Regions from separate parts of the Homo sapiens genome. Here regions 2, 3 and 4 are each reported to be linked to region 1. Evidence: microRNA targets listed by miRTarBase, many of them from high-throughput screens and not tested one by one. Region 1 holds a microRNA gene; each other region holds the end of a gene's coding sequence.
Evidence for each region. Region 1 holds the annotated microRNA hsa-miR-3666 (CAGUGCAAGUGUAGAUGCCGA, at 3,503-3,523, opposite strand). A microRNA usually pairs through its seed, bases 2 to 8, with sites in the 3' UTR of a target mRNA and lowers its output. Matches are read on the target gene's strand: a 7mer-m8 pairs with bases 2 to 8, a 7mer-A1 pairs with bases 2 to 7 and ends in A, and an 8mer does both.

Region 1 (7,120 bases):
AGATAAACCTTTTTTTAATGGGGAGAAAATGATGTGTACAGCATTGATTGATCTTTCTTTGTGGATTTGTTTTACACATTTAGTCAGTAGAGAGATTTGTTAGGGAAACAAAAATTAACATATGCCAGCTAATTGTTCTTCTTTCTTGGGCAGCAGCCAGAAGAAGCACATTAGCAGTCTAATAATAACGACTGGCACCCTGAAGGCATCCCCAAGTGCATCTGTTCCCAATAAACCACAAACTGTTATTCTGTTCATACTCTAAGCCAGCAGACTGGGTAGGGAATTCTTTGTTACGTACATAAATGAAAGCTGAGATAATGCTCCTAAATGCTGCATTTAATACATTTACAAAGCCACTGGTGTAAGCTTCTCTGGGATGTACAAGAGCACCTCTGCATAGTTTGAGAAACGCAGAAACATCCATATGCATCTGTATGTGACTTTGCAAATATTCTAAAATATCAACATCAGAACATATACATAACAATGTTATATTTAGAAAATATCAGCATTACATACTTGTATGTTAAAAATATGAAAAGAAAAGAAAAGTATTTCCCCATACATAAAAAAAAAAAACTCAGCTGGATGGTTACATATTCACTTTTAGAATTGCAAACCAGAACAAAATGGCACATTCAGAACCCAGAAAATACCAAATTGCAAATCAATGAAATATCTATCCTGATGAATATGTGACAGGACTCTGTACATTTTACCAACACATTAAAAGTTATCAAAACAGGAGAAATACATCTTTTTCAATGCAAACCACTCATGTTTACAATGTTACGGTAACTTATTCTGCTATCCTGTAATAATAAGCATACCATGTTTGTAGGCGTACAATCACAAACTGATAAAATAGAATTTATTATTAACTAAAGGGAAGCATGTAAAAGCTAGGATGAGCACTTAGCCACCTCGACTCATCTGAATATAGTCAAGGTTGGGTGAAACTCATTATTCAGGACTCGCAGCCTTGATAACTTTGATTTTCATCCATCCATAGCATGGCCAAAAGGTACCATTTAATGAAGTACCATTCAGAGAGTAAATGGGGTCATATAATAGACAGTGCGGTTGCACCTTGTGTTCATGTACTGATAGCTGTTAAGGGTGCAGTGATGAACCAACAGAGCTCATTTCTCCTTGGTAATAAATTCATGCTATTAATATTTATCAAATGTGTGGGCCGTCTCAACTGAGCCACTGCACATGAGACCATAAATCTCTACTATCATATCAATTTTGAAGCTTCTTTTGTACAGTGTATAAATTTTAGGGTTTTTTTGAGGGTTGTGAGTATTGACCACTCTTCTTTCAAACCGATCTGAGGCCAATAGTGCAGTTCCTCACTTCAGATATCGCTAGTTCCAAAGGGAACTTTAAACTGTGGTTTCATTTTAAATCGCTCATCTAAGATTCTGTATTAATTGCCCACCATCAAACGCAATTAGCAATTCTTTCATGTGTGGTTTATGTAATGTAATACTTCAATTACATTATTCATTCAGGTTCTGTTTTGGATTATAGGCTGAAAATTCTTTATTAGTGTAGATGTAACCATGCTGCTGGAGTTTTAAAAAATTTACTGATTGAATAATTAATTGGAAAAGAACAAGCTGCAGATTCCTGATGGATTTATGAGACAATTATTCTGTCTTGTGATTATCTACATTATACTATAGAAGCAATGAGGGAAAAAATCTTATTGAAAAGATAGTCATAAATACATGATCAAAAATATCCTCAAAAGTTTATTTTTTAATTAAAAACTCAGACATTTTAGAGTTTAAAAAGTAGTATGTCAGATTCAAAAAGATACATGTCTTTTTTCTTCCTATAAAAATGTTTTTACAGTACTCTACCTTTAAATACAGTACAAAGGAAAAGCAGAAATAGCTTAGCAGAGTTTAAATATAATCTCTACCAAAAAAGTAAATTTTGAATGATATTAATTGATAAGAAATATCGAGACATTACGAGAAAATTAGACAATATAGTCGTCTTCTGTCTCCTCCCCAACTACAAAGCCAAATGTTCGTTTTTTACCTAAAGAAATAGAGGGAGAGGCAAGACTGGCAATCATTAATCATCAGGCTATACAGGGGCCTTATTAAAAAGTATCCCACAAACTTTCATTAAACTAGAGTTACCCAGTTGATTACTCTAAGTTTCTGTGCAAACATCAGCTGAATGAGATAAAGTATATTCTTTTCAACAGTCTGTGTATCTGACTACATTATTAGGTTGAGCTTAAATCTCATATATTTTTGAGGGAAACTAGTCTTAATTTTCTATAATCACCCACTTCTTTTTGTGATAAGCTCTCTAAATTAACATTATGTATAATGTACAATAAAACATATCAATATGTGAAATACATCTTAACTGAAATAACCAAAGAAATAGGACAAAATTGGCTATAAAAATACCATGACCTTTATGACAAAATATTTGATAAAAATCTATTTATATGTATCTTATGATTGATCTGCCTTCTTCAGCACACCACATACATTTCTATTTGTGATTTGTACGTTACTACTTTTCAGGTTGCTCAAAGAGGGTTTCCTTTTAATATCTGTAAACCTATCACAGAAAGAAATTCTCTCTGGCTTCAGCCCCAAGGCAGTGATTTGTGCACTGATAGGTGTACTTTGTTTAGTGTCACCCATGGTGTAGATTGGATAGATTTTGTAAAAGATAGCATTACTTTAAAAGAAACATACAATTTGACAAGCGATTACATTTTACTTTCATTTTATTGCCGTATTTTTCATCACACTCATTGTTTTCTAACTGTCACTAAATTGTTCATTTTCTTAGTCTGTTACATTGGTAGAGCTATTTACTGTTTATAAAGCAATATGCACTTACAGGTTTGGGAGATGGTTTGGGCTCTGAGGGTCGCATGTGCAAGTGGGTCATCATTGCTTGAAGACGTTCGCGTTCTTTAGAAAGCTGTTAAGAAAGAGTGAGATCAGAAGCGTTTTAGAAATGACTGATACAGCTATTTTATTGCAGTGATACATCTTATCATTGAGCTTGCCTCAGAATAATGATTCCTGCATGTAAAAGTCTGCGTCAGGAGGAACTTATCTGGGAGGAAATGCAACTTTAGCTATGGAGGGGGAAAAACTTTTATAGCTTTTCTTATGTTAAAAGGTCAGAGAAAACAAATAACACTTCATCTTTTTGTCAATAAGAGAATTGAGGTCACAGTTGCCTCGACAGTAACAAGTTACTGAAACCATAAATTAGAAGGCCCATGGTGTCTCTTTAAAGTCCTGTGGACACTGTTAGCAATGGACTAGTGCCAACAGCTGTGAAGGGGTGAAGGGTTCTCAAAGCAAAGTGCCTGCCAGGATTGTCTACACACTTCATGCATTCCCACTGAGGTCCAGTTAGTGCCCCCTGCAATCTGCCATCATCAATCTAATTCAATAGAGTGACAGAGACCAGGCAGTGTGAAACGCTGAACTCTGCCACGGAGTCGGCATCTACACTTGCACTGGGTCTCATTACAACTGACGGACCTTACTTTTCCATCAGTCAGACACAGCAGAAGGAAAAAAAAAAAATAGGCGTAATTGGTCACACCGAAGACTGTATCATCAGCTGAACTCTTATGTTTTAGTCTACCTTTTATAAATGGTAAACAGGTTTATAAAAAGCTTTTTAAACTTTAACAGTGATGGTGCTTTTTGTGTTCTTGATTATTTTACAAGTCAAAACAAAATATTTTTAGTAAGCTCTCTGAAAAAAGCAATGACACGAATTTGAAACAAGATGTAATAAAATATGAAGAAAAATCGTATCTTTAAATGAAACAAAGTATTAGTTTCATTGAGAAAAGATCATCTTTAAGATGAAATGTTAGAGAAAGCCTTAAAGGCTTAGTAAAACATAACAAGAGTCAGACTTTGGGTGACATAATTGCTTTCTGATTAGTTCTATGGATTCTATTTACTTCTGGCCAAATTCTGTTTCAACATTAATAGAATTTTTTTTAACTTAAAACAGTCGCATTTGATACAACATGTGTGTATTATCATCTGTGATATAAATTATCTGCCTTTAATCTAGCTAAAGAAAAGTATAAAGATTTTTTTGCAAGTTCTTTAATTAAAATTACACTAGAAAAAGAAAAGAAAAGGTTATCTTTCAGGGTGTTAGTTATATTACAGGCATGATATTGTAAAGACTGGTCATTTGCCACAATATAAAATCTCATGGAAAAAAATCAAGGTTAGCTCATGTAAAAACTCTCTCTGTAATAAAATCATATCTAATTGGGAGTTTGGTCTAACCTGCATTGGGAAAAACTTAGATCTGACTACTTTGGGATATTCAAATTCATATGATGTGGTCTAAAAGTTATAAAAATATAAGTGATAAGTACATTAAACTACAGCAATCCTTCCTGGGTTATCAATAATTGCCACTGTTTAAAACAATCTAAAATATCATGTATCTCCATTAGTATTGAATGGCTAAGACAGTAAAATGCAGGCTGAAAGACCCAGAATCTGCTCAGTACTCAATGTAACACACCAGAAATCTAAGAAGAGTCCATTAAGTGAGCATTTAACAAACCTGTATTTCTAACTGTTGCACCACCTGCATTTGCACTCGACACTGAGCAGTGCTTCGGTCATCCAATGCGTGTTCATTGTTAAGGTGCCTAAACAAACAGAAGACACAAAACAGAATGTAAAGTGATGTCGATCTTAGTGGCATAGGCTACACTTAAAAAGCACTACACTGAAGTCAGATGTTTCTGTGCACTGGGAAAACAGAAAGCCTTGAAACCATACAGATAAAAGTTAAAGCTGCTTACGTGTTGTGTGAAAATTATTTATGTAATGTAAAGAGACTCTTCAAATGGCAGAAAATGTCACTGTCTCTAAGCTTACCTGTTATTACAAAAAATATTTCCCCAGACCATTTACAGAGTTATAGTAGAAGTCATATTATTTATGCCATTTTTTTAAAAAGAACAGCTTACAAATCTATGAACCAAAAGCAATTCTGAAGAGAACAAAGGCAATTTTCTATTTCATTGTTAGAACAGTTTGTTGTTTCTATGATGTATTTTAGTGAGCAATGTTTTATTTCATTGGGATGTGGTATGAATTAGGTAAAGATGGCAAATTATCTCCCGTGGAAAATCAATATTTATGAAGAATGATGATTTGCTGTTAGTAATAAAGAACTTCATTGAAGATTTTGATCATTAGAATAACAAGATTGACATTTCATGTCCAGTGTTCTAACTAGGAGACATTTGTCCTAATCTTATTTTTAAAATGGTGAAAAATAAATCATTCCAAATGATCTCACTCTAACCTTGAATATGCATTAGTCTACCATTATTATTTCTATACGATGTTTAAAGAGATCTCTTTAATGAGTGGTATGTTAATACACCAAAAGTAATTTAGTAAAGCAGCATCTCCAATGAACATGAAAACATTTAATAATATATACTCTGTAATTTGTAATACATAATGTCTTTGATGCTTCCCAAAATTAAAGAAAGTAATCTTCAAGTAATTCAATATCCTTTAGTGTATCTATTTCACCAATGGGCAAAGTAAGGCAACAATTTCAGAGATGTTCTCATCATTGCATATAAGTGAAATGGCATATTGAAAAGAAATTCACAAAATTAAATAAGAATTTATATATTTACCCAAGTGGGCTCAAGTATCATTTAGAATGATATAATAGTCTAAAAAGTTTATAATAGCCCTGGGTATACTGAATTCAACAAATATATTTTTGTATCCATTCAAATTATTTACTTTTATTTCTTGAAGATCACAGTGAGGCAGAAAAAATATAAGACACATACATGTAAAACATATGAAGAGTAATTAAAGTCGTGTTGCTGATAAAAACTAATTTTATTATAAACAAAAGGTTTATTTGTTTATATACCTAGGTTCAACAATCAGAAACCTTTGTTTTGCCTATACCTTGATAAATTAAACCAGTTTGTTTTAATACTTCCTTATTGATCATAACAACAAAACCTCCATGTATCTTGTCACAATGTCAGTCTTGGTTGAAGAGAAACTGTGGACTAAAATAGCAAGGTGGATAAGGTCAAGCTGAAGGAGTGTGGCTGGAGTGCAGGGGAGGCACTTCCACTATACCTGTCTGCTCTCTAAGCTCAGCTCAGGTTTGTTCTGCTGTGAACCTGTGAGGAGGATTAACATTCACTCATGCTCTCTGGGAAGGAGGTATGGAATGTGAGAGTAAGCCAGAGGTTAGTTAACAGAAAGTGTCACCAATTCCTAAATAACAAGACTACATTTAAAAATTGTTTCCCAGGGTTTTTTCCCCCAAAATTTAAATGAACAGTAAGACAATTTTCTACCAGCATAATACAGTTGTGTGTTGTATTCTTAAGGCTTCATATTGCTGTGTTTCCGTAAGATTTTTTTTTTTTTCACCATGAACTCTTGGGGAACACAAACATATTTATTCCATATAAGAAAAAATGTTGCATATTTTCAAAAATGCTTCAGTTATACACTGAGATTAGGGTGTAAATGCAGGAAGCAAGATAAGTAGAACATACAGGTCTGCAATAAAAGGCATAGTCACTATAACATTTTCTTGTGAAATCACTTTTTAAAATGATTTTCTACACTTGTTTACTGCTTAGTGATAATCATGATCTTATATTTAAAGAACTAAAAAAAGTACAAAATGTTTGCTTTATATACTTGGGTCTTAGAGCCCTATTCAATTTATCTATGCAGCTTTTATTAGAATAGAGACTGTAGACTACAATAATAGTCAATGAGGTTTTGTCTTGATTGAATTTTTCAGTGGAACACAAAAGAACCTTGCCATTAAAATAGTCCTTTATTCTCCTGTATGAAGGCGAAAGGTTTTTAAAGTGTTGTGATGTTCAGTAATGAGCCTCTATCTAAATTATCATTGGTGACAAACTCACAAAGCACTTTTCGAGGACACATAGTTATGAAATGCCAGAGCTGCCACTTTCTTTCCTGTAATTATAGGCTAGCTTGCAGCCCTTCAATGATCATTTATAGAACAGCCTCCAGTGGATTACTGAGAACTTGAAAAACACATA
Region 2 (7,120 bases), not on the chromosome of region 1:
AGCTGCCACTTGGCTGATTCACAGAAGTGTTTCATTGGCTTTGCTGTAAGGGCTGCCCCGGCCCATCCATGGGTGTGCTTGTACCCACCTTGAAAGGGGCTAGGGAGGGGAGGAGGGAGCTGTGAGGGCTTGTGCCTAGCAAGCCCTCCAGAGCTTCCTTGCCTGTGCTGAGCAAGCTCCATACTCTCTACAGGCCTACCTGGAGTCCTTCTACAAGTTCTGCACCCTACTGGGCGGGACTACGGCTGATGCCATGTGCCCCATCCTGGAGGTGAGTGCCTGCCCGCCCTCCTGCCTGCTGGTGCCCGCTAGCCCTGGCCTGGGGAGGCTCTGCCAACTGACTGGCTACTGCCTCCTTCTTCCTCCCTCTCTTCTTACCTGTGCACTGGCTCCACAGTTTGAAGCAGACCGCCGCGCCTTCATCATCACCATCAATTCTTTCGGCACAGAGCTGTCCAAAGAGGACCGTGCCAAGCTCTTTCCACACTGTGGGCGGCTCTACCCTGAGGGCCTGGCGCAGCTGGCTCGGGCTGACGACTATGAACAGGTCAAGAACGTGGCCGATTACTACCCGGTGAGTGCCCCGGCTGGCAGGACAGCGGTTGGATGTGTTGTCACCAAGCACCCCCACCCAGAACCCTCATGCTTGTGCTTCCCCCCACCCCCCTGGCCAGGAGTACAAGCTGCTCTTCGAGGGTGCAGGTAGCAACCCTGGAGACAAGACGCTGGAGGACCGATTCTTTGAGCACGAGGTGAGTCTGCAGGGTCTGCTTGTCAGAGGGAGGCCAACCTGGTGGTTTAGACCTGACTCTGTGGCCATGGCCACCTGGACACCACATCTGCCCGTGTCCACAGGTAAAGCTGAACAAGTTGGCCTTCCTGAACCAGTTCCACTTTGGTGTCTTCTATGCCTTCGTGAAGCTCAAGGAGCAGGAGTGTCGCAACATCGTGTGGATCGCTGAATGTATCGCCCAGCGCCACCGCGCCAAAATCGACAACTACATCCCTATCTTCTAGCGTCCTGGCCCAAGGCTCTCAATTGCACTCTTTGTGTGTGTGTGTGTGTGTGTGCGCGTGTGTGTGCGTGTGTGTGTATGTGGTCTGTGACAAGCCTGTGGCTCACCTGCCTGTCCGGGGTGTAGTACGCTGTCCTAGCGGCTGCCCAGTTCTCCTGACCCTCTTAGAGACTGTTCTTAGGCCTGAAAAGGGGCTGGGCACCCCCCCCCACCAAGGATGGACGAAGACCCCCTCCAGAGCAAGGAGGCCCCCTCAGCCCTGTGGTTACAGCCGCTGATGTATCTAAGAAGCATGTCACTTTCATGTTCCTCCCTAACTCCCTGACCTGAGAACCCTGGGGCCTGGGGGCAGTTTGAGCCTCCTCTCCCTTCTGTGGGTCGCTCCCAGAGCCATGGCCCATGGGAAGGACAGAGTGTGTGTGTCCTTGGGGCCTGGGGGGATGTTGCTCCTCAGCTCCCTCCCTCAGCCCTGCCCCTCTGAGACAATAAAACTGCCCTCTCTAAGGCCAACTGTCTGCTGTCTCGTTTAGGCCCTGGTACCTCTCCATGACCCCTAACTTCCCTCGTGACCCCACCTTGCTAAGCAACCCTGCCTAAGCCTCCACCTCCCTCCCTCAGTCAGCAGCCGAGATTCTTCAGGGTTGGGGAGTCCCAGGGAGATAGCCCCTTCTTCTGCTGGAGGCTCAGATGCATACAGGCCTGGGGAGCTAGATGTTGGCCCTGGAGGCCCCCCTGGCCTCCCCAGTTGCTTCAAGCAATTGGGATCAGTGTCATTACCCCCATTTCACTATGAGGAAACCCATGGTCTGAAATGATTTGCCCCAGGTCAGTGGAGGAGGGGGAGGTGTGAACCAGAGTCTACCAGGGGAATCCCAGCCTCCACGCTGAGCCCCAGGAGTTGCCACCCTGTCACACGGCCACACTGTGTCACTCAGCCAGCCAGTCAGTGACCCCCTCCAAACAGCACCTGCCGCATTTTAGAAGAAATAAAAATTTGTCTTTATTTAAAATGTGGCAATTGGGAAGTACAGTACATGCTTCCCTGTGGCTTGGGGGTGTGTAGTTGGGGCCCTAATTCTTGAGCCAGTCAAGAGACACTTGGGATTTAGCCCTCAATTGCAGCACTGAGGCACTGGTGCCGAGAAACAATCCTGAGGGGGTCCCCAACCCACCTAGTCACTCCTTAGTTTGCAGAGGCACTATCTGCAGAGTCCTGTGAAAGGCTGCAGTGAAGTCTTGCATGAGACTCCCCATCCAGCGGAGTTCTCCAAGCTGCAGGGTAGAGCGTTGTGCCAGGAGGGTGTTTGGGCTCATGAAACAGTGGAGAGGCGCAGAGGCTCACTGGGAAACCTTGGCCTCACCGGGCCTGGATTGGGCATCGGCAGTGGGCATGAAGTGGGGGTGGGATTCTTTAGGCCAGGGTCCAGGACACTTGGGGGATCGTAATGCTGGGGGTTTTCGGGGAGGAACCAAGGGCTCACGGAGCCTCCTGTGCTGCAGTGGCTGGGCCATAGGTGCACATGGCTCACCGAGCCACTGCTGGGGAAGGGCCGGGGCTCAGGTTTGGGTCCTGGGCTGCGTCCTGTGGTGGGGTAGTGCCAGGCTGGCCAGGCTGCAGTGCTCGAGGCAGACAGTGACTGATGAAGAAGGCCTGCAGGAAGCGGCGCCGCAGGCCTTCAGGCAGGTAGTAGTGGATGAAGTACATGAGCCCCAGGCCCTGGCCGGGGTAATAGCGGCGGCGGGGCCGAGCTGCCAGCAGCGCATCTGTGATGGCATCTACAACTGGGGTGAGGTCGGACATGGCCAGGCGTAGCGAGTGCAGGAACTGCCCATGCAAGTGCTCGATGTAGTCCTTGCCGTAGGCCTGCAGCAGCTCTTGAGGCAGGTTGGCCAGCAGCAATTGCTTGCGCTTTTCCCACTGACCCACGTTTCTCACTGACTCTGGGGAAGGAGTGGCAAGGTCAGAGTGGGATCAGCTAGGGGAGCCAAAGCCAATTAGGACTGTTTAACCCGCGCCAGGTCTGCAGCCAAAACTACACCCCCAACCAAAACCATGACCATTCATCAAACCTGACCTGCCCCCATAAGACCATTCCCAGCCCCATTCCCCACCCCCACCCCACCCCCAGCCCTGATTCCCACCTGTCTTGAAGCAGCCAGGCTGGATGATGCTGACCTTGACCCCCCAGGGAAGGAGTTCACAGCTGAATGTGTCCATGAGTAGCGCCACGGCCGCTTTGGAGGTTCCATAGGCCCCCAAGCACGGATATGGCATGTCCCCTGCGGATGGATTGGGAGTGGGGCAGCTCAGCTTTGGCAAGGGGCTCCCTAAGCCCTCCCCCACCCCAGGGGGCTCCTTTTTGCTCCAGTGGGGGGGGGCACTCACCCGCTGGGCTCCCCACAGTCACGATGCGGCCCCTTGAGCTGCGCAGCAGGGGCAGGAGGCCCTTGGTCAGCTCGAGCGCGCCAAAGAAATTCACCTCCATGCAGCTACGGAAAGTGGCCACTGGAGACAGCTCCGCATCAGCAACTACTTCATTGTGGCCTGCGTTGTTGACGAGGCCCCACAGGCCTGGGGTCACAGAGCAGAGGAGGGAAGCCTTAGGTCAGCCCAGCAGCAAACTTCCAGTCCCCGTGTCCTTCCCACTCCCCTGCCACGCCCTTGCCTGGTGGACACTTGCCACTGACCGGTGCTGGTGGTGTGGGCCTTGGTGAACTCTAGCACGCGGCTAATGTCTCCTGGTTTGGTCAGGTCCATCTGCAGCAGCCTTAGGCGAGGGGAGCAGCAGGTACGCAGCTCGATGGCACCGGGGCTGTTCAACTCCAATACGGTGGCCAGCACCGTGAAGCCCATGGAGTCCAGTTTCTTGGCCGTCTCCTTGCCAAAACCAGAGTCACAGCCTGGCCAGGCCAGGGCAGTCAGTGAACTTCCACTGTGGCCCAGCCTAGCCTGAGACAACCCCAGAATCACCAGGGTCTGGATGGGATCCAGGCCCCTGCAAACCAAGCCACCAGCAGTCAACAACCCTAACTCCTTCCCTAGGCCCATCCCTGGCAGGCTGTGTCCCTCTAGCTGAGCCCTGGGCAGTAACTCTGTGACAGCTGTCATCTGCCTGACTCCCCGTGGCTACCCCACTAATGTGGCTTACAGAAGAGGAAACTAAGGCCTAGTAATGCTAAGTTGCTTCCCAAATTCACACAGGTCAGGTCTGGGACAGTCCCAGGCCCCAGTGTGGTTCTGCTTTCTTGATTTCAGGCCACAGCTCACAGGCACAGGCACAGTATTAGTAGGAGCCTCCCTTTCTCTTTTTTTTTTTTTTTTTTTTGAGACAGGGTCTCGCTCTGTTGCCCAGGCTGGAGTGCAGTGGCATGATCTTGGCTCACTGCAACCTCCCCTCCTGGGCCCAAGCATTCCTTCCTCCTCGGTCTCCTGAGTAGCTGGGACTACAGGCCTGTGTCACCACGCCTGGCTGGTTTTTTCTTTTTTTTTTTTTTTGTTTGAGACGGAGTCTCACTCTGTTGCCCAGGCTGGAGTGCAGTGGCGTGATCTCAGCTCAGTGCAACCTCTGCCTCCCGGGTTCAAGCGATTCTCCTGCCTCAGCCTCCTGAGTAGCTGAGACTACAGGTGCGCATCACCACAGGCCTGGCTAAGTTTTGTATTTTTAGTAGAGACGGGGTTTCACCATGTTGGTCAGGCTGGTCTCTAACTCTTGACCTCGTGATCTGCCTGCCTCGGCCTCCCAAAGTTCTGGGATTACAGGCGTGAGCCACTGCGCCCAGTCTACCTGGCTGGTTTTTAAATTTTTTTGGAGAGATGGGAGTCTCACTATGTTGCCCAAGCTGGTTTTGAACTCCTGGGCTCAAGTGATCCTCCCACCTTGGCCTCTCAAAGTGCTGGGATTGAAGATACAAGCCACCACATCCGGCTTCTCTTCCTTTCTGACTGCCCAGGCCTCTCCTTCCTTAATCTGGACTCTGAAGCAGCCCCTTCTGTAGTCCTGTCCCTTCCTGCCCTCTTGAAGCCCTTCTCTACCTAAGCAGCCAAAGGGATCTTTCCAAAAATGACAATATCCCTCTGTGCTACAAACCTTCCCAGGGCTGCCACAGTACTCAGAATGAAGCCCAAGCTCCCTGGCTCAGGCCCTGTACAACATGAGCCCCACCTCCCTTCCCAGCCTCAACACCCTCTACTATTTTTTCAGGCTGGAGGCAAGCTGGAGGCCCATCCCCACTTCACCCAGACCCTTGGAATTCCAATCAGTGGCAACAGGGGTGTTTTCTGAGCCCCAGACGACTTGCCTCCAGGACAGGGACCATGATAGATGAAGAAGAGAACAGACCTACATTTGAATCCTTTCCCACACCCACCAAGTGTGACCGAGGTCAGTTACCACTCTTGGAGGCTTAATTTCTGTCTTTGGTATGCGAAGAGAAGAACCACCAGGCAGAGCCAGTGTAGGGGTCCATAGTACTGATAAGCCCCTGCCTCCTTGATTGTTCCCATGCTGATCCTGGCTCCATGGGCAGCCAGTGAGGGAAGGGGAAAGGCCAGTGAGCAGGGAGGCTTTCTGTTCTGCTCCTGCTCCCACCCCTGGCCCTCAACCCCGCCCCCCAACCCCCATCTTCTGGAACAGAAGCTGCAAAGCAGCTCTGTTTCCCTACTCCTGGACCGCTCAGTACGGTCTCCCCATCTCAGCTCCACTCCCTCTACTGAAAACAGCACTGGGCAGGGGTCTTCGAGCTCCTGCTGAGGAGGGGTACTTCCCAGGCAAGTCTGCCTTGGAGAGGGAGGCAAGCATATGTGTGTGTGTGTGTGTGTGTGTGTGTGTGTGTGTGTGTGTAGACACACACATGCATATGTGCACTTGTCCGGGTCCCCCTCAGAGCAGACAGGTCCTCCCAAGGGAAACAGACCTCCCAGTTCTGACCTGAGCTGACCACAGGCCTCAGCTCTGTGGTCCCAACAGTCACCCACATCTTGCACACCCTCTTGCTCACGTGCACACCCTCAGATACCTGTACACACTTCCAACCTGGCTGGATGTTCTCACAACGGGCTCAATCCCTACCACCCATTGGCACACACATGTGCACATGTGTGCACACAGGCACCTGATCCTCAGCCCAAACCCTGATCCCACAGCTGAGCTCCAGGAGTAGCCTTGGCAAGTGATTCTCTGGGCATTCTTAGGAGGGAGAGGGGGAGTAGCAGCTCTGCCAGGCCCAAAACACAGTGTTCTTGGCAGGTGGGGCTGAACCTGGTTACCTACTTGTCTTCCAGCCGGGTGTTGAGAGACAACCCCCAAGTGTTCGGGCCCTGGGAAACTTGGAGTCTTACTGATGCTTGTACAGGGCAGGTTGGGTGGTCCTCTCTCCCCCAACCCCAGCTTTGCAACCAGAGATTGGAGGAGCCCAAGTTAGAGAAAGCATCCTTCCTCTCACCTCTCTCTCAGGCTCAAGGCCAGAAGCAACAGCAGCAGCACAAAGGCCTGAGGTGAGACCTCAGGAAAGACTACCCAGCTAGGCCACTAGTACCTGCAGATGGCCTGGGTCCTGTTGAGGTGGCTCACAAATAAAGCAGGAAGGGATCTGCCCTGTCCCCAGAGGCAGAGCCCACAACCTGGCCCCTACTTCATACCCGGGGTGTCTGTTGATTTTCCTTCCTCAAACCTCTGAAACTGGGGTCTGCTGAGGCTTCACACTGCGCCTGGAACCTGGGTCTCTCCTGTCCAGCCCGAATGCTTCCCCATCTCTACCATCTTTGCTGGAGTGCAAGGCCCTTGTGCCTCCTTCCCCCCTACTCTGCCTCAGCAGTCTGGCTTCTTACCTGATTCATGGCCCCTCCCAAGGAAACCACCTCATATCCCCTTCTCCCCACCCCCACACCCAGACTGGCTGTCCCCTACAGAGACCGTGTGTACTCCTGCCTTAAGCCTTTGTCCCACATCCTTTCTCTGATCCGAGATCCCTTTCATACTCCACTTATCTCCACTCATGCTCCAAGGCCCCACTCAAGGATTTCCTCCTCCGGAAAATTCTCCCAGCCCCATCTGATCACACAGGGCCCCTACTAGACCGAGGTCTCTGAGAAGCCAGGTTGCTGG
Region 3 (7,120 bases), not on the chromosome of region 1:
AAATCGCCCAGCATGATGTTTGGTGTATAGTTGGTGCTCAGTATTACTCCCTCTCCCCCTCCCTCTTTTCCCTCCTTAACTCAAGTTAGCTCTTTGGTACCTTACATATCTCACTTCATTTCCCAAGGAAACACCACTGTAAAACATAATTATAAATTGCTGTACAAAATACCTTCCCTGGACCTTGTTTGAAGGTCTTTCCTTTTATATTGTATCCCTTTTCTTTTTTGGAGGTCAGTAGGAATGGTTGAGGCAGTCTTGTGTCTCTGATGAATCAATCGCTAAAACCTACCTGAAGAAACTAAGAAGTTCCCATTATTCTCTTTTTTTAGACAGTCTTGTTCTGTCGCCTGGACTAGAGTGCAGTTGTGCATTCTTGGCTCACTGCAACCTCCACCTCCTGGGTTTAAGTGATTCTCATGCCTCAGGCTCCCAAGTAGCTGGGATTGAAGGCATGTGCCACCACGCCCAGCTAATTTTTGTATTTTTTGTAGAGACAAGGTTTCACCATGATGGCCAGGCTGGTCTCAAATTCCCAGCCTCAAGTGATCCACCACCTCAGCTTCCCAAAGTGCTGGGATTACAGGCATGATCCACCACGCCTGGTCCCATTGTTCTTTACATCTGATGGGCTGCTTTTGGGTTGTTTTATGCAGTGCGAGTGTGTGTGTAAATATTAACATCTATCTTGTTATTCCTTTTTATCCTTATCCAAAAACCTCAGCTATAACATGTTCGGACACTTCAAGTTCTGCATTACTTTATTCGGAGGATATGTTTTATTTAAGGATCCACTGTCCATTAATCAGGCCCTTGGCATTTTATGTACATTATTTGGCATTCTCGCCTATACCCACTTTAAGCTCAGTGAACAGGAAGGAAGTAGGAGTAAACTGGCACAACGTCCTTAATTGGGTTTTTGTGGAGAAAAGAATGTTGTCCCAAGAAGATAAAAAATATTGTTAAGTGTGCAAGTTATTAAAAAAAAAAAATTGGGCCAGGCACGGTGGCTCACGCCTGTAATCCCAGCACTTTGGGAGGCCAAGGCCAGCGGATCACTTGAGGTCAGGAGTTCGAGACCAGCCTGACCAACATGGAGAAACCCTGTCTCAACTAATAATACAAAATTAGCCAGGCGTGGTGGCGCATGCCTGTAATCCCAGCTACTCGGGAGGCTGAGGCAGGAGAATCACTTGAACCCGGGAGGCGGCGGTTGCAGTGAGCCGAGATCGTACCATTGCACTCCAGCCTGGGCAACAAGAGCGAAACTCCATTTCAAAAAAAAAAAATTGGTGACAGACTCAATGATGGAATGATTTGTCGGAATTAACACAAAGCAGATTTTATTCATATAATGACTTTTTTTTAAGAGTCTCTTTTTTAAAAAAACTTAATTCTCTAAAACCGAAATGGTTCATGCTTCTTTTTAAAAATGATTGTATAAAATGTATGGAATGGTTAGCCTGGTGTGGTGGTGCACACCTGTAATCCCAGCTACTTGGGAGACTGAGACATGAGAATCGCTTGAGCCTGGGAGGCGGAGGTTGCAATGAGCCAAGATCGTACCACTGCACTCCAGCCTGGGCGACAGAGCAAGACACTGTCTCTCTCTCTCTCTCCATATATATATGTGTGTGTGTGTATATATATATATATGTGTGTGTGTGTGTGTGTATACATATATACACATATATACACACACACATACATATACATGTGTATATATATACCATCCCATATATATGTGGGATATATATATATATATATATGGATATGGTTATATATATGGGATGGTTTGGTTGGTCCCAGCAAAGTATATGAAAATTAAAGTTCTGTGATAATGACAAAGGAATTGCTGTTACTGTACTGCAAATATGCTGTGGGTTCTCGGTGTTCAAACTCTTCTAAGGAAGGACACACAGTAGCTCTCTGCTTGCTGATAGATGGTTTCCCAGTGTGAGATTTGTTATTTTGATCAGAGTATTCAAATCAGAATTTAAATCTAGTGTTTCTATTTTAGTTTAGCTTCCTGATTTATATAAATGAAATCTCATTTATAAAGTATAATAAAGATGACTGTAAGACAAAATCCAATTCTAAAAGTATGATTTTTTTCTAGTAGAAAATTGATGTAAGAAATCATACATTATTCATACATTTATAGGTCATCTCTTTGAGTTTTCAGTGAACTATAGAAACTATATGGAGTTAAAAAACAAAACGGCAGCCAATCTCAGTGGCTCACACCTGTAATCCCAGCACTTTGGAAGGTTGAGGCAGGCAGATCACCTGAGGTTGGGAGTTCAAGACCAGTCTGACCAACATGGAGGAATCCCGTCTCTACTAAAAATACAAAATTAGCCAGGCATGGTGGCACATGCCTGTAATCCCAGCTGCTCGGGAGGCTGAGGCAGGAGAATCGCTTGAACCCAGGAGGCAGAGGTTGTGGTGAGCCGAGATCATGCCATTGCTCTCCAGCCTGGGCAACAAGAGTGAAACTCCATCTCAAAAAAAAAAAAAAAAAATAGCCCTATGTTTAAATGGCTCAAAGAAAAGACTATAAATGGAATTGAACATGTTTGTTAGCTGTTTGAGCATTTTATATTGGTAAATTTTTTATTTTCTTATTTTTTGTCTTACAGTCGACCAGGCTGGAATGCAGTGGCACAATCATGGCTCACTGCAGCCTCAGCCTCCTGGGCTCAAGCAATCCTCCTGCCTCAACCTCCCCAGTAGCTGGGACTACAGGTGCACACCAACATACCTGGCTGATTTTTATATTTTTTGTAGAGACAGAGTTTTGCCATGTTGCTCAGGCTGATCTCAAACTCTTGAGCTCAAGCCATCTGTCTGCCTCAGCCTCTCGAAGTGCTGGGATTACAGGCCTGAGCCACCACACCTGGCCAGTAATTTCTTAATCCTACCTCCCTGCTTCTATTGCCTAGCCCGTACATTTGAGGCTTCCATGGAGCTTTCTGTGGTACTGAAACACTTGGAGTGAACTGCAAACTTGGAGTGAACTACATCCAACCTTTCTAAGGTGGCTGGGGAAAATTCTTGTACAGCAAGTTGGGACAAAATAGCCATATAGAAACAGCCATATAAGATCCCAATATAGAAAAATTGGGATATTAGAGGAAATACATGATTTCCATTTATGGAGTGCTACATGTTTGCAAAATGTATTTCTGCTTTTCATCTTCTTGACATCTGAATATTAAAAGCAGTTGTTGATAATTTCATATAATAAATTGAGACATATCATTACTCTTGTAATAATTCATTTTCTAAATGTTATTTATCAACTTTCATGGAGAAAACAACTCTTAGGAGAACAAAGACCAGCCCGGGCAACATGGCAAAACCCTGTCTGCAAAAAATACAAAAATTAGCCGGGCCTAGTGGCACGTGCCTGTAGCTCCATCTACTCAGGAGGCTGAGGTGGGAGGATTGCTTGAGCCCAGAAGATGCAGGTTGCAGTGAGCCGAGATCATGCCACTGCACTTCAGCCTGGGCGACAGACTGGACTCTGTCTCGGGAAAAAAAAAAAAAAAAAAAGGGAAGAGCGACAAAATATACCTTTTGATAAGACAGTAAATTTTATGTTTTGTGTTTTTTAACACAATAAAAATATATATACACACATATAATATACCTTTGGGGTTTTTAGGATTTTTTTTTCCTGGACTCTGAAATGAGAAGCCTCGCTGAAAATCTGTTTTGGAGAATTCCAGTTTGTCAGTCAGTCTCTTGTGTAATTAGTACGTGTGGCTTCCTTCTTTGTTTTAAATATTCTTTGGTTCTTCTCATTTTACAAAGATATATATTTTTTGTGCTAAGGACAGAGCAATTAGTTTTTACCAGATAAGCCTCGGGTATTATGTTTGTCTAAGAAACATTCTCTGTGTATGTTTAAATTGTAATTATTTCCCAAAAGCTGAGGAAAATGTTTCAGCACAGTGAGGATTTGACGTCTGCACTGAGAACAGCTGAGTTTATTTGTGCCATTTAGAAATTCGTAACTGTAGGCTGGGCGCAGTGGCTTACGCCTATAATCCCAGCACTTTGAGAGGCCAAGGCGGGTGGATCACCTGAGGTCAGGAGTTTGAGACCAGCCTGGCCAACATGGCGAAACACTGTCTCTACTAAAAATACAAAAATTAGCTGGGCATGGTGGCGGGCGCCTGTAATTCCAGCTACTCGGGAGGCTGAGACAGGAGAATCACTTGAACCAGGGAGTCGGAGGTTGCAGTGAGCCGAGACTGCGCCATTGCACACCAGCCTGGGTGACGAGAGTGAAACTCTGTCTCAAAAAAAGAAAAAAAAAAAGAAATTTTTAACCGTAAATAGAACTTGGGGAGGGTGTTATATAATATATGTGTCAGTAGGAAGGCAGTAAGAAGATTGGAGTAAGACAGGATGGGGTTACATGTATATAAATGAATAAAATAAGTACTGCTAAAACTTGAGTCTGATAAACTTTTTTGCCCCGAAGATAATCATCCCACTGAAAAGAAAACTCTGGGGAAAATATGCCAGATACTAGGACCAAGCACGGAGACAAACCAGATACAGTGCTTTCAAAGAAAACATGCTTGCTGTCCTTTGTTACCAGTGTAATTGTAATTATTGTTTATTCTGTGTTAAGTGACTGAATTTCAATTTTTACCTTTTAAAAATAAAGAGAACCTCTTTTTACTTCTGTATTGCATATGAGAGCTGATGGAAGAAGGATGGCATCTGTGTAACATATGCATGGTAACGCTGACGTGTTCAGCTGTTCATATTTGGCCTGTCCAAATAAGCAGAAATGAATGAAACAAAATTCCATCTCCTTTTAGAAATAACATAAAGGAGAAATCTATCTCTGTGAAATGAAGTAAGCATTCTTCTGTTTCACTTTTTAAAATACTTTTAAAATCTTGCTGTTTTCAACCTATTAATGACTTTTTGAAATTGTATTTCAAAGCAGAAACATTAGGTTGGGTATGGTGGCTCACGCCTGTAATCCCAGCACTTTGGGAAGCTGAGGTGGGCAGATCACCTGAGGTCAGGAGTTCAAGACCAGCCTGGCCAATATGGTGAAACCTTGTCTCTACTAAAAATACAAAAATTAGCCAGGTGTGGTGTTGCATGCCTGTAGTCCCAGCTACTTGGGAGGCTGAGGCAGGAGAATGGCTTGAACCCGGGAGGCGGAGGTTGCAGTGAGCCGAGATCACGCCACTGCACTCCAGCCTGGGCAACAGAGCAAGACTCCATCTCAATAATAATAATAATAATAACAAAGCAGCAACATTAATCAAGCACTCTGTATTCACTCCGTCAGTAAATACTGTCGGGTGAATGACTGCAGAATGGCCAAAGGTGAGAGTTTGATTAAAAGAAAGGAGACCTTGGCCGGGCACGGTGGCTCACGCCTGTAATCCCAACACTTTGGGAGGCTGAGGTGGGTGGATCACCTGAGGTCAGGAGTTCGAGACCAGCCTGGCCAACATGGTGAAACCCCATCTCTACTAAAAATACAAAAAAATTAGCTGGGCGTGGTGGTGGATGCCTGTAATCCCAGCTACTTGGGAGGCTGAGGCTGGAGAATCCCTTGAACTTGGGAGGCGGAGGTTTCAGTGAGCCAAGATCATGCCATTGCACTGCAGCCTGGGCAACAAGAGCAAAACTGTCTCAAATAAATAAATAATAAAAGAAAGGAGACCGGATTTATTAGATGTGGTCCGTTTTGTCTTTCTGTTCCCAAACTTAAACTGGATTATACCTGCTAATATCAGGAATATAATGATAATTGCATTCATTCAACAAAAATTTATTGAGCATATACTGTGTGCCAGGTACTGTCCTAGGCATTATGGATATAAAACAGTTTTTATGTAGAGACAGTCCTATATTTCCTGTGATCTTAAGGAACATTTGTCTAGTATTAGAGATAGGACTAATTAAACAAAAACAAGACAAGAATAATTAAACAGCAAACTCAATGAATGCTAAAGGGAACATCGTTCTGTGAGCACATAACAAAAGAATCTGGCCCAGGCTTGGCACTTGTGGAGGGAGTCCATGAGGAAAGTTTGAGCTGCAGTCATAGATACATAGAAGTTAGCTAGCTAGGCAGAGGGAGGGTATTGCATTCTGGAAAGAGGGAATAGCACATACAAATGCCTAGTGGTTGGAGGAATTGTGATGCTTTTAAAGAACTGTAAAAAGGATGGAGTCTGGAGACTAAATTTGGGAGTGGGGAGACATGGTGTGTCCTGCACCTGGAAATGTAGATAGACCTCAGGCCATACAATACCTGGAGGCTATGGTAAGCATCTTTAGTAAGAGCAAGGGGGAGTGTTGTGAGCACTGTCACAGTAAATTTCTTTTTTTGAAATTAGTGGAGGAGAACCAGAGAGATGCCAGGAGACCAGTTAGTTGGGAGATGACTGTAGTTAGAGATGGTGGTAGCTTCAAAGGTAGTGGAATGAGATAAGTGGAAATAATTGAGTAGCTGGAGTCAACTGGACTGGAGATGGATTGGAAATGGAGGGCATGAGAAGGGGTGAAGTTAAGGATCACACTTCAGCTGGGCACAGTGGCTCATGCCTGTAATCCCAGCACTTTGGGAGGCTGAGGTGGGTGGATTGCTTGAGTCCAGGAGTTCGAGACCAGCCTGGGCAAACATGATGAAACCCCATCTCTACAAAGAATACAAAATTAGCTGGGCATGGTGGTGTGGGCCTGTGGTCCCAGCTACTCAGGAGGCTGAGGCGGGAGGATCTCCTGAGCCCAGGAGTTTGAGGCTTCAGTGCGCCATGATCACGCCACTGCACTCTAGCCTGGGTGACAGAGTGAGTCCCTGTCTCAACAACAACAAAAAATCACACATGTCTGATTTGCGCAGCTTGATAGAGAATGGTGCCATTCTCTGAACTAGGAAACACAAGAAGAGGACTGAGGAGAGGGATGAGGCAGAGGAATATTATGGGCCTTCTTGATACTGAGATATCCAATTAAAGATGTTGGCCAGGCATGGTGGCTCAGGCTTGTAATCCCAGCACTTTGGGAAGCTGAGGCAGTCAGATCACTTCAGATCAGGAGTTTGAGACCAGCCTGACCAACATGGTGAAAC
Region 4 (7,120 bases), not on the chromosome of region 1:
CACCTAACATTACTGTACATGTGGGCTCTTCCCATGTTTATCCATGTTTTTTATAAATGCCATGATCTGCAATGAACACCTTTGTGTATAAATCTTTGGTTTTTGCATTATTTTCTTGAATAAAGTCCCAGAAGAGGAATGAACAGGTTAAAGGTCATGGATACATGAATCTTTTAAAGGCTTTTGGTAAATTGTCACGTGCTTCCCAGAAAGGTACATCTCCCTCCCTGCCCTTCACTCCCACAAGTAGTATGTGACATCTTCCATTTTACTGAATTTGGAATCATTTTAAAGATTTTCACCAAGAAGTTCTGAGCTCAAAATGCCACAGTGTAAAAAGCCACAGCAGAGGCAGAGATGCAATAAGCTTCTGAGGATTTTGTCAGAATTACCTGGGGCATTAAATTATGTGGGGAAAAATGTTCTCTGACACGTTTGTTTGTTACCAACTCTTGCTGGATGAGGGCTGGTTTCTTTAAGAGAAGAATGGAATTGATTTTGTTTGCTAGTTCAGCAAGGAAATATAAATTTAAATGCAAATTTGAGCAGCAGTGGACAGTAAATCATCTTTGGCGTCTTAGATTGGTTTTCCCTGTTCCTGCTGAAAAGCAATCTGTGCCCTTTGCCACCATCTCCCTTCTAGCAGGTGGCAGCTTGAGTCCCCCGTGCTTCCTACTCACCACCATGGCCTTCTCTCTCAGGTCACAAACAAACAGAGGCGAGAACAGCAGTGGATGGAGAAGAAGAAGCGGCAGGAGGAGAGGCACCGCCACAAAGCCCTGGAGAGCAGAGGTAGCCACAGGGACAATAACAGAAGCGAAGCAGAGGCGAACACGCAGGTCACCTTGGTGAAGACCTTCGCCGCTCTCAACATCTGACTCTTTGGCCTCTTGGGAGTTGTAAGAAGCGGCTGGAAAAGGATTGCTGTGTGCTAGACTTTCCAGTGAGGCCGTCCTTTTATAAAACGCAACACAACCAACGAAGCCCACACATGAGCTCACACACTGAGTTAGTTTCGTTCAAGCTGCCTCTTTTTTTGTTCGAAGTTTTATTAGTGATATGTTGGTGTTTTATGAAAATGCAGTGAGGCCATTCATATTCTGTAATACAAAATTAAAATACTGAGTTTTAGGGGCAGATAGTTAGGTCAGGAAAAACCTTTTAAGTGGTGGCTTTATTTGCCCTGAAAATCAGACTTCAGTGACCCTAGGATCTTTCCTTAACATTTGGGGTGAGTTTTGCTGTAATTGTTCATGAGTAGTTTAGAATAATTGTTAGAAATTCAGAATGACAAGTTTCCTTAGTTTCTCTTTCATTCTCAAACAGATATATAGGGTAGCTTATAAATGATCTCCAACTCAGGAATATGCTTTGATTTACTTCTAATCCAAGTTACTCAGAAAATAATTCAGGAATTGTTTTCCCAAAGTTACGTGAGGGTTGTGGCCTGCAGTCAGGATGGAAATTAACCGCATTTCTCTCCTTCCTGATTCTGATGTTATTTCAGATGGGATGCAGGTGCTGTTAGTTCATTTGCACTCAAGCCATATGATAAATGCAGCTGACTGTTAATTAGGCCTGGCCTTGTTGGGAAGTTGATAGTGGTGTTGGGTTTTTGGTATTTGTTTCCTGACAGTGGGGAGATGGCATGTTACTGCTTGTGATACAGTTCTGGAATTCTGATAGTGTGTAGAGCAGGGTCTATAGTTGTAACAGGAGACGAACTCCTGGGGTTTTGCCTAAGAGGAGTCTAAAGAATTATGTTTTTATAGGAGAAGCCTGGAAGAATAAGGTTTTTCATGTTCGCATTTTAAATAACGATTTTCTTCCCTTCTGTTGTAGACTTAGATGCCTTCAGAGAGATACGTGGTAACTTGACCTTATAGGTCGCTAAACTTAGTATTGTGGAAATTAAATCTTATAAAATGCTACATTTATTTCTTTTTATTTAAGCCCTGTTTGGCATTTCAAAGTTGGGAAAACTCCAGCATCTGCTGGAAGTTGTTGGACCAGCAGGGTTGGTTGACTTAGGTTGGACCAGCAGAGAAGAGAACATACTTTGGTTGAGGCCTTCGAATCACTCTTCAGTTCTGAAATAGACAGACTTGAGCAGTGGAGAGACGTCTTTCCTAAAACTGAGTTAGGTGGATGTGAACTTAAGAACTATAACGTATGAGGCAGCCCATCTTGGATCATCTTTGTCTTTTGGGACCTAATACTTGGGCAAATAATTGATGCTGAGTTGAAAGGTAAATTATTAGTTATCTTCCCCACCCCTCGCATTTCAGAATTATAAAAATTCGGAGGCAAATTGAAAACTAAAATGTTTGGTAGGCCCTGGAGTCGCCAGATTGTCTTTATCACCAGGCCTTTGGCTTTCTTCAGTTTCACTGGTATCTTTTGGTTTTGTTTTTGACTTTGGTGGCTTTTTGTAGTTGGAGCATCAGTAGTCTCTTGGAATTGCTCCTAGGACATTGTGGTTTAGGTTTCTTCCTGGGTACAGTACATTGTAAAATTTAGCAGATTAAAAAAAGTACACAGCATTTTTTTTCTGTGCACGTCGCAGAGTCCTGAGCTTGAGGCTGTGTTACTCTACTCATTCCAAACGAATGAAAGATCTCTGTTGCCTTACTCTAAGGAAGTGGGATCGAGTGCGTTAGGATCTATGGTTGTCTTGGTTTTCAACTCTGGGCAGATTCCTGACTGGCTGAGTGTTTCTGAATGAAGATGTTTTCCTGTCTGTTTTGTACTGCTTGAGTGCAGAGGCCAGATCCTCTCAGAAAGATAAGATTGTATGCCAGAAATTCAGATTAGCAGTCAGCTTAAGAGAGACTTATTGTCAGAAGTAGTAGAATTGCTTTATTTACTTGGTTAATGAAGGTGGCCTTGGGCCCTATTGGGTTTTAGAAGTTTTAGAAGCTGCTAAAAAGTTATTAAAGAATATTGGGAACATTTATTTTTTAAATTACCTAATTCTGGTAATAGGCTTCAGCATTTCTGGAGTATAATAATGGTGGTTTAAAAAACTAATCAAACGGCTTTAGTAATTTTACTACTGGTTTCACAGCTTTTCAGTTACAGTTGGTCTGTTTAGTGTGTTAATTATTAGGAATCGGGTACATGCATCCAACTTCAGTGATACCTTCTAGCTAATGGTTTCAATTTAGACTTCACTGCCTCAGTCTCACTGGGTACATGAGAAGGTTGGAATCAACATGCTTAGTTGCCTCAGTGGGCACTTGAAAATTCCTTCACTGGCAGCCCGAGTGGAGGCCCAGTATGTCTAGTCCTGGGATGACTGTTGTCAGCAGCTGTTACTCTAGTACAGGTGCTCCTGTGAACTCTTTATTAGGAACTGAATGTGTCTTAACCTCTGTGTTACATCTTGGCTGGCAGAGATTTATGTTACATGAGATTGTCTTGGTAGCTTGTAGTGTGGTCAGGAGAAAGGGGATGGAGCAGTGGTGCATAGCTGCTTACTGCTCTTATAAACGGTATATAAAGGTTTTACGGATTTTGAAAATATTTTTTTTTAGAGGTCAAAATAAATACCATTTTAGTGGCAACAGCTTTGAACTAGAGAGGTAGATGTATTAAAGCAGCATAGAACCATAACTTCTAGATAATGTAGTTGCCACTAGGAGATATTAGAAAGTTAGAATGTATGTGTGTATTTAGTTTTTCAATAATAATGAACATACACTTTCAGGAGCAAAGTATGGTTGAGAAATTGTGGCAGAAAGAATTTTAAATGTTAGTCGAAGTTGTCTGTAGTTTCTTTATTAAGCTCTGAAAACACTTCCAATGCCAGTTTGATTCTGAGGGCTTGGGAAGTGGGATCTCCCTTGTGGAGCAGCTGGAGCTGGCTGGGAGGGAGCCTCTCCATGGGTAATTTATTATGCCTGCCCTGCTTCCCCCAGGGAGCTGCTTCAGTGTGAAATGATGTGATTGTCGGGGGTGGGGTGGGAGGAGGGCCACCTTCAGTCGGGGAGTTGCTCACATATTACACAGGTAGCATCAGGTGGACTTCAGCGCTGAACTGTACTAGTAGTGAGTCCCTGTAGTCAATGTGCAATTTCTCTAATTCTGAGAAACTCTGTAGACTCTGCCTGGGTTTTACTGGGTCAGCATAGAATGCTATCAGTTTACCTCTGTGAAATATTCAGTCAGTTGAAGGAAACTTGGATTCCTAGTCAGAGGTGACTAAAAGTTACCCTGACCAAAAGGATCTCTGCGGGGGGAAGAGAATGGAGCTTCCTGATTTTAATGTGTTGCGTCAGTGGCCCTCTTCGACTCCCGTTTTGGGTAGATGCGTAGCTCTTCACTTTCTTACCTCAAGGCTCTGTCTAGCCATGTTAAATCTTTAGACTCAGTCTGATGCCGTTTTTCTGTTTTGCCATTCTCATTATTCACAGCTTTCAGAACAAGTGTTGCTAAAACTCCGGGGCCTTTGACAGTTGTTCTGAGGTGATTTAATAATGGACTTTTTATAAGTTATGTTTTCCTGGCTCTAAAGTAAATTTTTTTTTTTTTTTTTTTGAGACAGAGTCTTGCTTTGTTGCCCAGGCTGGAGTGTGGTGGGGCAATCTCGGCTCACTGCAACCTCCACCTCCCGGGTTCAAGCGATTCTCCTGCCTCAGCCTCCTGAGTAGCTGGGATTACAGGTGTGTGCCACCATGCTTGGCTAATTTTTGTATTTTTAGTAGAGACGGGGTTTCACCATGTTAGCCAGGCTGGTCTCAAACTCCTGACCTTGTGATCTGCCCGCCTCAGCCTCCCAAAGTGCTAGGATTACGGGTGTGAGCAACCCTGCCCGGCCAGTAAATTGTATTTTTTTAATGACATCATTGATTTGAAGATCTAGATGGCATAAATTACGACGTCTGCCATCGCATATTAGAAAGGGGACAGTCATATTTGTAACGTGGAGAGAACACGGAGCACCAGTCACCACGTGCACTTAGGATGCAGAGCTTACCGCACACCGCTGATGGGGACCTCCGGAAAGAGCGGTGCCTTGTGGTTGGCCTGGAAGTTCTCTCCCAAGGTGAAATTCCTTTAAAACCTCAGGCTCTGACCTATGTCTTTGAAGCAGCTGCTTTGTAGAGTCCCTCTCTTTACTGTCCTCGTTAGGACTGTTTTGTGGTTCCATGAAAATGTTTAGCATCCTTGCAGAATTACTTGAGAAGGGGCTGGTACCAGTGTAAAGAATCTATTTCTGTAAAACTACGAACTTTTGCATAGGGAATTTATTCTAAGCAGGTCATAGCCGTGATCCAGAGCTGCTGCTGCTCACTGCCAGTCCTTGCGGCTGGCGGCGATTGCCGGACAGACTCTCTGTGGCCTGGCTCTCATCCTTGGCGTGTCAGCCTGCGGCAGGCTGCCAGCCATCCATGACAATCATGTGAGCTCAGCCACAGACCTCAGCTGGCGGTTTGATCCCTGGCAGGTCCCTCGAGCAGTACTGGTAAGAGGCTTCACACATTTTCCCACTCTTACAGTTCATTTTTCATAGTAGGAAGGGCCCTTGGCCTCCCCAGTGCCTCTTCCAGAGCCTCCACCAGCACTAAGCTCAGAGGAAAGAAGAAAAGGGCCAGGAGTCAGACGTCACACCCGGGGGCTCCCCTTTCCCATGTAGAAGTGTTGGCATGCGTCAGTCTCCTTTACAGAGGGGTGGATGTATCCGTGGAGGAGGGGCCTTCTCTCTTTCTAATTGCACTATACTTGTTCTAGCTTCAGTCTGGAGATACTTAAGACCTCCATGGGGTCGTGATCCATAGACTTAGCAAGTCTTGCCTTATCTATGGAGCTCGATGGTGAGAATTGTGACCATTGTCTGATGTCCATAGTTCCTTCCCCCTAGATTGTTTCTTTCCACGGATTGTGTTCATCTGAACCATTTTATTTTTTATTTACCAAAGTACTGTACTTGGCTATTTGCAGTGTTTTCAAAACCAAATGTTTCTTTTTTTGTGTTTTTAATCTTCGATACTTGGTGCAATAGAAGCTGCAAAGATGTGCCACTTTATCTATGAAATGGAGTTTTGTATACCAATAAATTCTAGTTTAAAAACAAAGTTTTAAGTTGTTTTTATCAGTATCTGACCACCGTTTGAGTGAATGCAAGGAGGCTGAGTGTGCTGGGAAATGTCCTTTTTGGAGACCTTTGTGTGGAAGCTTTGCGTGTTTGCGTGTGCTGGATTGAGTATTCTAGGTGTATAATAGTACTTTGGGATCTGACTAAGCTTAGAACAGCTGATTTTTGCTTTAGTGCAGCTAAATGCAGCCACCAAACACAATGGCAGGGTCATTCTTAAGGACTACACACTTAAGATTTCTGCCTGATATCTGAGAGCATCTCTTGATAAGTTTGAAACTGTTTAAATATGTAGCAGTTGTCTGTCAGCGGCCACTTTGGGCTCCTCTAGAACTCTCAAGATTGTTTGACCCCATTCAAGGAGGAGGCTCCCTGCCAAGGCACAGACAGTACCATCTGGGGGCACAACTCACCTAGAAGGGTCCACAGGAAACCAGAGCGAAGGGAGTCCTTCATTGCGTCCAGCAGGGGCCCCATCCACACAAGGGCTCTGGCTCGGCAGACCTCACCATGTCATGATTTTGACCTTGAGACTCCCATTCTCCCATTCTTCATTTTGTATTCAACAAGCAGCCTTCTGAATTGGCTCCCTGTTGCCTTGACACAAAAAAGGACTAGATGGTTTTCTGGATGAAAGTCAAGAATATTCTAGCTTCTGCAAGCAGATTCTCCCACAATCTCTCAAGTGATCTTCTCTGTGTGATTCTTCTTCAGTCCACAACTGAGAGACCCATCATCTCTGGATAGACACACACTGTCTGGTTCCTGAGCCTGTGAGGCCCAGATTCCAGACCCCATTTAACCTGAGATTCTTCCAGGAAATCTGCTATGGTCCAAAGTGATGTCCCAATCCAGGTGCTGCCCGCACACTGGAAAACTTCCATGGCCTCCTTAATCCCATTCCAGGGATTCAGCTGGGGCCAGGTGGCTGCTGCTAGGGATTAGAGGGGCTTCCTGTTTGGGCAGCGTTGGACCAGGTGACCTGTAAGATCCTGTGTGGGAGATAGGATGAGTCTTTAAGGA

Region 2: miRTarBase lists ATP6V0D1 as a target of hsa-miR-3666. Seed matches in the 3' UTR shown: 7mer-m8 at 1,040-1,046.
Region 3: miRTarBase lists SLC35E3 as a target of hsa-miR-3666. Seed matches in the 3' UTR shown: 7mer-m8 at 1,238-1,244 and 7mer-m8 at 5,641-5,647.
Region 4: miRTarBase lists OTUD3 as a target of hsa-miR-3666. Seed matches in the 3' UTR shown: 7mer-m8 at 1,534-1,540 and 8mer at 5,714-5,721.

Annotation. Positions count from the first base shown.
Region 1 is chr7:114,649,776-114,656,895 of GRCh38, reverse strand. MIR3666 (microRNA 3666) reads right to left here and starts at 3,551; the gene lies at 3,441-3,551. It overlaps FOXP2 (forkhead box P2), which reads right to left. Exons shown (of 17, transcript NM_014491.4): 9 at 4,606-4,693; 10 at 2,887-2,970. RefSeq lists an enhancer at 578-1,842.
Region 2 is chr16:67,432,425-67,439,544 of GRCh38, reverse strand. It overlaps ATP6V0D1 (ATPase H+ transporting V0 subunit d1), which reads left to right. Exons shown (of 8, transcript NM_004691.5): 5 at 194-271; 6 at 398-574; 7 at 675-752; 8 at 856-1,526. The coding sequence ends at 1,017. It overlaps HSD11B2 (hydroxysteroid 11-beta dehydrogenase 2), which reads right to left. Exons shown (of 5, transcript NM_000196.4): 2 at 3,705-3,917; 3 at 3,403-3,588; 4 at 3,159-3,296; 5 at 1,992-2,957. The coding sequence ends at 2,542. Among named protein-coding and RNA genes, the nearest start is that of HSD11B2, 4.9 kb to the right of the region's middle. RefSeq lists an enhancer at 3,558-4,059.
Region 3 is chr12:68,763,980-68,771,099 of GRCh38, forward strand. SLC35E3 (solute carrier family 35 member E3) reads left to right here. Exons shown (of 5, transcript NM_018656.5): 5 at 725-7,120. The coding sequence ends at 911. Among named protein-coding and RNA genes, the nearest start is that of SLC35E3, 21 kb to the left of the region's middle.
Region 4 is chr1:19,906,869-19,913,988 of GRCh38, forward strand. It overlaps OTUD3 (OTU deubiquitinase 3), which reads left to right. Exons shown (of 8, transcript NM_015207.2): 8 at 702-6,077. The coding sequence ends at 878. Among named protein-coding and RNA genes, the nearest start is that of PLA2G2E, 13 kb to the right of the region's middle.